Regions from separate parts of the Homo sapiens genome. Here region 1 is linked to region 2. Evidence: fine-mapped expression QTL. A gene starts in region 2. The other region holds a variant in brackets. All regions are shown on one strand. Distances are from middle to middle. Region 1 has its middle 64 kb from the start of YIPF6. Region 2 holds the start of YIPF6 (Yip1 domain family member 6).

Evidence for each region.
Region 1: its variant is fine-mapped to the expression of YIPF6 in fibroblasts (GTEx, PIP 0.99).

Annotation. Positions count from the first base shown.
Region 1 is chrX:68,560,894-68,566,108 of GRCh38, forward strand. No RefSeq gene overlaps it. Among named protein-coding and RNA genes, the nearest start is that of YIPF6, 64 kb to the left of the region's middle. The variant G/A (reference allele first, on the strand shown) is at 2,463.
Region 2 is chrX:68,496,571-68,501,743 of GRCh38, forward strand. YIPF6 (Yip1 domain family member 6) reads left to right here and starts at 2,481. Exons shown (of 7, transcript NM_173834.4): 1 at 2,481-2,553. The coding sequence starts at 2,497. RefSeq lists enhancers at 1,647-2,321, 2,120-2,599.

The DNA.
Region 1 (5,215 bases), 64 kb after region 2:
GTTTTTATGGTTTTAGGTCTAACATTTAAGTCTTTAATCCATCTTGAATTAATTTTTGTATAAGGTGTAAGGAAGGGTTCCAGTTTCAGCTTTCTACATATGGCTAGCCAGTTTTCCCAGCACCATTTATTAAATAGGGAATCCTTTCCCCATTTCTTGTTTTTCTCAGGTTTGTCAAAGATCAGATGGTTGTAGATGTGTGGTGTTATTTCTGAGGCCTCTGTTCTGTTCCATTGGTCTGTATATCTGTGTTGGTACCAGTACCATGCTGTTTTGATTACTGTAGACTTGTAGTATAGTTTGAAGTCAGGTAACGTGATGCCTCCAGCTTTGTTCTTTTTGCTTAGGATTGCCTTGGCAATGAGGGCTCTTTTTTGGTTCCACACGAACTTTAAAGTTGTTTTTTTCCAATTCTGTGAAAAAAGTCATTGGTAGCTAGATGGGGATTGCATTGAATCTCTAAATTACTTTGGGCAGTACGGAACATTTTCATGATATTCATTTTTCCTATCCATGAGCATGGAATATTCTTCCATTTGTTTGTGTCCTCTTTTATTTCATTGAGCAGTGGTTTGTAGTTCTCCTTGAAGAGGTCCTTCACATCCCTTGTAATTGAATTCCTAGGTATTTTATTCTCTTTGTAGCAATTGTGAATGGGAGTTCACTCACGATTTGGCTCTCCGTTTGTCTGTTAATGGTGTATAGGAATGCTTGTGATTTTTGCACATTGATTTTGTATCGTGAGACTGCTGAAGTTGCTTATCAACTTAAGGAGATTATGAGCTGAGATGATGGGGTTTTCTAAATATACAATCATGTCATCTGCAAACAGGGACAATTTGACTTCCTCATTTCCTAATTGAATACCCTTTATTTCTTTCTCTTTCCTGATCGCCCTGGCCAGAACTTCCAACACTATGTTGAATAGGAGTGGTGAGAGAGGGCATCCTTGCCTTGTGCCGGTTTTCAAAGGGAATGCTTTCAGCTTTTGCCCATTCAGTATGATATTGGCTGTGGGTGTGTCATAAATAGCTCTTATTATTTTGAGACACATTCAATCAATACCTAGTTTATTGAGAGTTTTTAGCATGAAGGGTTGTTGAATTTTGTTGAAGGCCTTTTCTGCATCTATTGAGATAATCATGTCGGTTTTGTCATTGATTCTGTTTATGTGATGGATTACGTTTATTGATTTGCATATGTTGAACCAGCCTTGCATCCCAGGGGTGAAGTCGACTTGATCATGGTGGGTAAGCTTTTTGATGTGCTGCTGGATTTGGTTTGTCAGTATTTTATTGAGGATTTTTGCATCAATGTTCATCAGGGATATTGGTCTAAAATTCTCTTTTTTTGTTGTGTCTCTGCCAGGCTTTGGAATCAGAATGATGTTGGCCTCATAAAATGAGTTAGGGAAGATTCCCTCTTTTTCTATTGATTGGAATAGTTTCAGAAGGAATATTACCAACTCCTCTTTGTACCTCTGGTAGAATTCAGCTGTGAATCCATCTGGTCCTGGACTTTTTTTGGTTGGTAAGCTATTAATTATTGCCTCAGTTTCAGAGCCTGTTATTGGTCTATTCAGAGATTCAACTTCTTTCTGGTTTAGTCTTGAGAGGGTGTATAAGTCGAGGAATTTATCCATCTCTTCTAGATTTTCTAGTTTATTTGCGTAGAGGTGTTTGTAGTATTCTCTGATGGTAGTTTGTATTTCTGTGGGATCGGTGGTGATATCCCCTTTATTATTTTTTATTGCATCTATTTGATACTTCTCTCTTTTCTTCTTTATTAGTCTTGCCAGCAGTCTATCAATTTTGTTGATCTTTTCAAAAAACCGGCTCCTGGATTCATTGATTTTTTGAAGAGTTTTTTGTGTCTCTATCTCTTTCAGTTCTGCTCTGATCTTAGTTATTTCTTGCCTTCTGCTAGCTTTTGAATGTGTTTGCTCTTGCTTCTCTAGTTCTTTTAATTGTGATGTTATGGTGTCAATTTTAGATCTTTCCTGCTTTCTCTTGTGGGCATTTAGTGCTATAAATTTCCCCCTACACAATGCATTAAATGTGTCCCAAAGATTCTGCTACGTTGCATCTTTGTTCTCATTGGTTTCAAAGAACATCTTTATTTCTGCCTTCATTTCGTTATGTACCCAGTAGTCATTCAGGAGCAAGTTGTTCAGTTTCCATGTAGTTGTGCAGTTTTGCGTGAGTTTTTTAATCCTGAGTTCTAATTTGATTGCACTGTGGTCTGAGAGATAGTTTGTTGTGATTTCTGTTCTTTTACATTTGCTGAGGAGTGCTTTACTTCCAATTATGTGGTCAATTTTAGAATAAGTGCAATGTGGTGCTGAGAAGAATGTATATTCTGTTGATTTGGGGTGGAGAGTTCTGTAGATGTCTATTAGGTCTACTTGTTGCAGAGCTGAGTTCGAGTCCTGGATATCTTTTAACGTTCTGTCTCGTTGATCC[G/A]TCTAATATTGACAGTGGGGTGTTAAAGTCTTGCATTATTATTGTGTGGGAGTCTAAGTCTCTTTGTACGTCTCTAAGGAGTTGCTTTGTGAATCTGGGTACTCCTGTATTGGGTGCATATATATTTAGGATAGTCAGCTCTTCTTGTTGAATTGATGCCTTTACCATTATGTAATGGCCTTCTTTGTCCCTTTTGATCTTTGTTGGTTTAAAGTCTGTTCTATCAGAGACTAGGATTGCAACCCCTGCTTTTTTTTTTTTTTTTTTTTGCTTTCCATTTGCTTGGTAGATCTTCCTCCTTGCCTTTTTTTGGAGCCTATGTGTGTCTTATGTGTGTCTTTGCACGTGAGATGGGTCTCCTGAATACAGCACACTGACGGGTCTTGATTCTTTATCCAATTTGCCAGTCTGTGTCTTTTAATTGAGGCATTTAGCCCATTTACATTTAGGGTTAATATTGTTATGTGTGAATTTGATCCTGTCATTATGATGTTAGCTGGTTATTTTGCCCATTAATTGATGCAGTTTATTCATAGCATCAATAGTCTTTACAATTTGGCATGTTTTTGCAGTGGCTGGTACTGGTTGTTTCTTTCCATGTTTAGTGCTTCCTTTGGGGGCTTTTGTAAGGCAGGCCTGGTGGTGACAAAATCTCTCAGCATTTGCTTGTCTGTAAAGGATTTTATTTCTCCTTTAGTTATGAAGCTTAGTTTGGCTGGATATGAAATTCTGGGTTGAAAATTCTTTTCTTTAAAAAGTTGAATATTGGCCCCCACTCTCTTCTGGCTTGTAGGGTTTCTGCCGAGAGATCTGTTGTTAGTCTGATGGGCTTCCCTTTGGGGGTAACCCGACCTTTCTCTCTAGCTGCCCTTAACACTTTTTCCTTTATTTCAACCTTGGTGAATCGGACAATTATGTGTCTTTGGGTTGCTCTTCTCAAAGAGTATATTTGTGTTGTTCTCTGTGTTTCCTGAATTTGAATGTTGGCCTGCCTTACTAGGTTGGGAAAGTTCTCCTGGATAATATCCTGAAGAGTGTTTTCCAACTTGGTTACATTCTCCCCATCACTTTCAGGTACACCAATAAAATGCAAATTTGGTCTTTTCACATAGTCCTGTATTTCTTGGAGGCTTTTTTTGTTTCTTTGTACTCTTTTTTCTCTAACCTTGTCTTCTCACTTTATTTCATTAATTTGTTGTTCAATCACTGATAACCTTTCTTCCACTTGATTGGATTGGCTACTGAAGCTTGTGCATTCATCATGAAGTTCTCGTGCCATGGTTTTCAGCTCCATCAGGTCATTTAAGGTCTTATGTACACTGTTTACTCTAGTTAGCCATTCGTCTAATCTTTTTTCAAGGTTTTTTTAGCTTTCTTGCGATGGGTTCGAACATCCTCTTTTAGCTCAGGGGTCTGGCGAATCATGCCCTACAAATCATAAATTCTCATCTGATGGGTTTTATTTAACCCTATATATCATGACTTACTTTCCTATATGACTCTGGCATAACATTACATGACAAAGAAGAAAGTCAAAATATTCTACTTTGCCATATTTTGAAATGGTCCTTTGTGGGGGAAAATGTGCATTTGTAAAGAATCTATGAACATAGCTAGATCTTTTTCTTCCAGCCCCTCCCAATCCTGAAGAGATTAAGTAAGAGTCTAGTGCCTTTTAACGGTCCAAATAGGAAATCTTTGTCATCTACTGTCTCTAAGGGCAGCCACTATAAGACTACAAAAGAACCTTGGTCTCCACAATCTTTTATGTTAGCCTAAACATTTCCTTTCTATTGATCCAGGTATTTAGACAAACTCAACCAATTGTCAATCTGAAAACGTTTAAATTTACCTATAGCCTGGAAACCCCGTGCTTTGAGTTGTTCCACCTTTCTGAACCAAACCAATGTATTTCTTTCTTTTCTTTTCTTTTTTTTTTTTTTGGAGACAGAGTCTCACTCTGTTACCCAGGCTGGAGTCCAGTGGTGCGATCTTGGCTCACTGCAACCTCTGCCTCCCGGGTTCAAGTGATTATCCTGCCTCAGTCTCCTGAGTAGCTGGGATTACAGGCACTCACCATCTCACCTGGCTAATTTTTGTATTTCTACTAGAGATGGGTTTTCACCATGTTGGCCAGGTTGGTCTCGAACTCCTGTCCTCAGGTGATCCACCTGCCTCAGCCTCCCAAAGTGCTAGGATTACAGGCATGAGCCACTGCGTCTGGCCCAAACCAATGTATTTCTTAAATGTATTTGATTGATGTCTCATGCCTCCCTAAAATGTATGAAACCAAGCTTCACCCCAACCACCCTAAGCACATGTTCTCAGGACCTCCTGAAAGCTGTATCACAAGCCATTGTCTCTCGTATTTGGCTCAGAATAAATCTCTTCAAATATTTTAGAGTTTGACTCTTTTTATTGACACACTACAATAGCATCCAAACTTTTTTGATGACTAAAATACTTTGAACACTCACTCTTGATATCTATTTTTAATCCATTATACATGTTCACATATATGAAACATAAACAAAAATATAATTTTTAAAACATACAGTATAAAATTAAATATAAACAGTTATATTTTCTTCCCCATATATTTTTTTATTTTCAGTAGGTTTTTGGGGAACAGGTGATGTTTGGTTACATGAATATGTTTTTTGGTGGTGATTTCTGAAATTTTGGTGCACCCATCACTCAAGCAGAGTACAATGTACCCAATGTGTAGTCTTTTATGCCTCATCCCCCTCACC
Region 2 (5,173 bases):
ATCTGGGACTACAGGCACGCACCACCACACCAGGCTAATTTTTGTATTTTTAGTAGAGACGGGGTTTTGCCATGTTGCCCAGGCTGGTCTCGAACTCCTGAGTTCAGGCAATCTGCCCACCTCGGTCTCCCAAAGTGCTAAGATTACAGGCGTGAGCCACCGCGCCCAGCCAGCTTTTAACATGTGTTTTAAATTTTTCCTTTCAAAATTTTGTTTTAATGAAATTCCCCACTTTGTTTTGAGTCAATTCTGATCATTTTTCTGGGAAATTATTTCCTTAATATTTCCTGGTTATTTTCATAGAGTTGTATGTTATAGTGTCCTGAAATACAGATTAGCCAACAAAGTTCTTCATACCTATTGACTTAAATATTAATTCCACTTCTACCACTTACAAAGGTTCTAAGTAACTTTGGACAAGTCATGCAAGTCCTGCTGTATTGTAAATATCCATGATCTGGCAAACAGTAATGACTGTAGGTGTATTAAAGAACTCTGAGTTAGTCTGGCAATTTTTTGAGATACACTTGCAACTAAAAACATAGAATAATTCCTAGTTTTGGGAGCTTGTTCCTGTGCAGCCCCTTCCTTCACAACCTTCCTTCCTGATTTTCTTTCTACAAAGCATATTGTCTCACACCCAACCAGTACCCTATTAGTTAAATGGGGAGAACAGGCATTGGTAGTCTGAAATAATGCCCAACTAACCTGAGCACTGCCTGCCTCAATTGTCCTATGGCCCGTCCTCTTTTTTTTTTTTTTTTAAGACGGAGTCTCGCTCTTTCGCCCAGGCTGGAGTGCAGTGGCGCGATCTCGGCTCACTGCAAGCTCCGCCTTCCGGGTTCATGCCATTCTCCTGCCTCACCCTCCGAGTAGCTGGGACTACAGGCGCCCGCCACCACGCCCAGCTAATTTTTTGTATTTTTAGTAGAGACGGGGTTTCACCGTGTTAGCCAGGATGGTCTCGATCTCCTGACCTCTTGATCCGCCCGCCTCGGCCTCCCAAAGTGCTGGGATTACAGGCGTGAGCCACCGCGCCCGGCCGGCCTGTCCTCCTCTTAACCTATCACCAAGGCTACCTTGAAATAAGTGGCCAAGAGGGCCAATAGATGAGGTTAGAAGGGGTAGAAGCGAGGGGCTTGTGGCTAGGGAGAAATAGCTAATTTTGGAGGTTGGCAAGGAAATAGCAGACGTTATCAATGGCCTCAGGGAAGTGGGACGGGAGGTAGTGATCTGGTAATCATGGGGTGGGAGGATGAGGTGAGAAGCTCAGGCTGGGGTTGGGACATTTGTACATGATATTCCCTTGCAATTGCAAAAAGATTTCATGTCTACTGGCTTAAATTTTAATATCACTTCCACCAGTATTTGTGCAAGTACTAAAATTGTGCTTGGTCTGAAGGGGAATTATCGTAAACAAAACAAAACAACAAACACCAAAAAAAAAAAAAAAAAACACCTCCATTCGTTTGGAATTTTGTCCCTCCACATTCCACATTCTTCCTCCTTAAATTTACTACTTGGATTGCCTATCCAAAAATATAAAACACTTTTATTTCACAGCCATCCCCTGCCTTGTTGGTTAAATGCTTAACACCACCAAAGGGCACCCAGGTATCCTGGATGCTGATGCTGTCAACAATGGCTGCCCTGTCTGACTACATTTTAGCCTGGGGCCAACGTAAACTGGGACCAGAAATACCTTGAAAGCCCAAAAGGATGAGATAAGGAAAACAGGTTGGGACATGAAGATTATCTTTTAAGTTATTGTCACAATAGTTACTCTCTTTTAGACCCTGAACATTTTCAGTACTTGCTCCAAATGGTTTAGCAACTTTTGAAGTGGGATTAACAAGTTTGGCCAATGAAGCTTCTTCCCTGCCCACCGCCAGAGGTGCTGGAGAAAAGTAATCCTGGAGGGTCGGCGTGGAGGCAGTAGAGAGGTTTATAAAAGTCAAGGAAGTGGGAAGAGGCTTGCGAGCAGCAGGAGAGGCGCAGAGTCAGAGGGGCAGGGGCGGCGGCGGAGGGAGCAGGAGGTTGGGGCTTGAGCCCGTCATTCCGGCGCACGAAAACTTGAAGTCGCTCGGTAGCCGGGGAAGGGAAGGAAGAGAGGCAGGCTCTTTCCTAGAGGTGCCGTGATCGAGGGTCTGGCACTCCAAGCCAACTCCTGAGAACGGGAAATGGGCGGGAGTCGGTGGGGTGGAGAGGGCAGCCGTGGTCGCGAGAGCGAAGGAGCGGTCTGAGAATCCGGCTTGAGTGTTAAAGGCTAAGCGTGTCTAGCTGGACCCGTGGCCCCGAAGAAGCGAGACAAGGCGACGCGGAGCTGTCCCTGACACCCCGAGGACCGAGGGACAGCGAAGGGCCGGGGCCGCCGGCCATTGCCAGGCGCCATTAGGTGACGCGGCCGTCACGCGATGACGCGCTGACCGGCAGTGGCCTCCACGTCGCAGGTTCCGCAAAGACCTGTGGGAGCGACCCGGGAGAAGGAGGGCCAAGATGGCGGAAGCGGAGGAGTCTCCAGGAGACCCGGGGACAGCATCGCCCAGGCCCCTGGTGAGCTTGGGATCTGCGACAAAAGGGACCGAGGGTGAGGCAGAGTGCCCCCTAAAGAAGTCGGGGGACGGGCTCGTGGCCTGAGAGCCGGAGCTCCTTCCGCCCGGCAGGCCCTTCTTGTACCCGATGCCAGAACCAGTCCCAACACTGCACCTGTTCTTTGCGCTAACCGCTTTGCCCCCTGCCCTCGTGGTTCCTTCCAGGTCTTTTTGTGAAACTCCGATCTTTCCTTTCCCATCCTCCCAGGTCTCGTCATCGTCCCCTACATTGTGTTAAATGGCGAACTTTAGGTGATTTCTTAAGTTATCTTTTCTTCTGCTGTCCCCTCATTTTATCAAAACCTGTCACCAGCCTTTGTTGAAGGAATAATGAGAGATTGCTTCCCGTGGGACATTAACGTTTTGTTGCTTATAACTTTAGTATTGACTTGTTCAGTGACCCCAGTAGGCCAGGTTTAACCCCTGTCGCAGCTCCTTGCCATTCTCTTCACCATACTTGTTCTCCTTTCTTATTTTTTACTTTTTTAAAAATCGAGACAAGGTCTCACTCTGTCACCCAGGCTGGAGGGCAGTGGCGCGGTCTCTGCTCACTGCAACCTCTGCCTCCCAGGCTCACGTGATCCTCCCACCTCAGCCTCCCTAGTAGCTAGGACCACAGGTGCGTGTCACCACACCAGGCTAATTTTTAGTATTTTTTTGTAGAGACGGGGTTTTACCATGTTGCCCAGGCTGGTCTCGAATTCCTGGGCTCAAGCTATCCTCCTGCCTCGGCCTTCCAAAGTGTTGGGATTACAGGCGTGAGCCACTGTGCCCGGCCATCTTCACTATACTCTCTTGCTCCTGTCTCTGCAAGGGATAGAATTTCCACTGCAAGCCCAAAGTGTGGACAAGTATTTTAAGAACACAGGCTTTGGAGTTAAACTTTACTTGGGATGGAATCCACCCACTTTGTGAGTTTCGGCAAGTCATTTTAGGGAGGGTGTTTCTTCATCTGTAAAATGGAGATAAAAATACCTGCCTCAAAACAGTTTTTAGAAAGATCAAATGGCATAATTTATGTAACGTGTCTAATACTATCAGTACCATGAACTGAGGAGTATAATGAGGTCAATATTCTGCTCCTGTCCCTCTTCTCAATGTGTTTAGTTATATAGTAGTTGCTCAGTAAATGGTTCTTCCCTTTCCTCTTTTTTTTTCTTTTTCTTTTTTTGAGACGGAGTTTTGCTCTTGTCACCCAGGTTGGAGCACAATGGCACAATCTCAGCTCACTGCAACCTCCACCTCTGGGGTTTAAGTGATTCTCCTGCCTCAGCCTCCTGAGTAGCTGGGATTACAGGCGCCTGCCACTACGTCCAGCTAATTTTTGTATTTTTGTAGAGACGGGCTTTCACCACGTTGGCCAGGCTAGTCTCGAACTCCTGACGTCAGGTGATCTGCCCGCCTCGGCCTCCCAAAGTGCTGGGACACAGGTGTGAGCCACCGTGCCTGGCCCCCTTTCCTCTGTTTTGAATTAGCAACTTAACATAGTGAACTGAGCTGGGAGATCAGTGAACTTAATTCTAGTCCTAGCTCTGCTGCTTACTAGCTCCATTTGTTCACCTCTTCACTCACTCAACAAATATTTATTGAGCATCCGCTACTATGTTCCAGGCACTCCTTTAGGCACTGGGGATATGGCAATAAGAGTGAGTTGTGTTAAGTTCTATCGTGACCTTGAGTAAAATCAGGCTGAACCCCAGTTTCCTCCTTTGGAAAATGGTGATAGGAACACATCACTGAATTAGTGAGAGTACTAAATGAGATAATATATACATTGTGCCTACTGTGACATTGTCATAGGTGCTTAGTAGTTTTTAGTTTCTTTCATTTAAACTTCTCCACCCCTCTTCTGTGAAGCTTTCCCCAGTTAACTTCAGTGGTTCTGATCACTCATTACTCAATATGCAATCCGCTTCCATTCAACAAATGTTTAGTGAACTCCCACAATGAGTAATGCACTGTGCTAGTTGCTGTAGGGAATGCAAAGGGCCTGCCTCTATGGTGCTACCAGTCTTAAGTTTTAGGGATAAGACAAGTATACAATGCTAAAATAAGGCAGTATGTAAGAGAAAGTTACACAAAGAATATTACAGAAATTTAAAGGAAAATGCTATCATGTCCAGTTGGGGTGACCAAGCTACATGGTGGAAGTTATATTTGAAAGGACTTCAAAGGATGGGTAGGATTTGAAATTGCAAGTGAGTATAAGAGCTATCAATAACTGAGCACCTGCTACATGCCAGGTATTGTGCTAGACATCCTCTGCGTATTTGCTACTAAACTTTACAGCAATCATTTCAGTTAGGTGGCTTTTAACTACATTTTATGTGCAGATGAGGATATGACATGCAGGGAGGTTTGATGATTTCCCTAGGGTCTACATCCAGTTAGTGCCATGCATGAAATTTGAACCTAGATCTGACTCTGAAGCCCAGACTTATATATCCATTTATATATAAGTGGATATATCCATTCATATATATATAGAAGCGCAGACTTATATATATCCATTTGTGCTACACAGCCTCTTGTGAACAAAGGCACAGAAGTTGGAAGGTGCTAGTATATTTATAGAACAACAC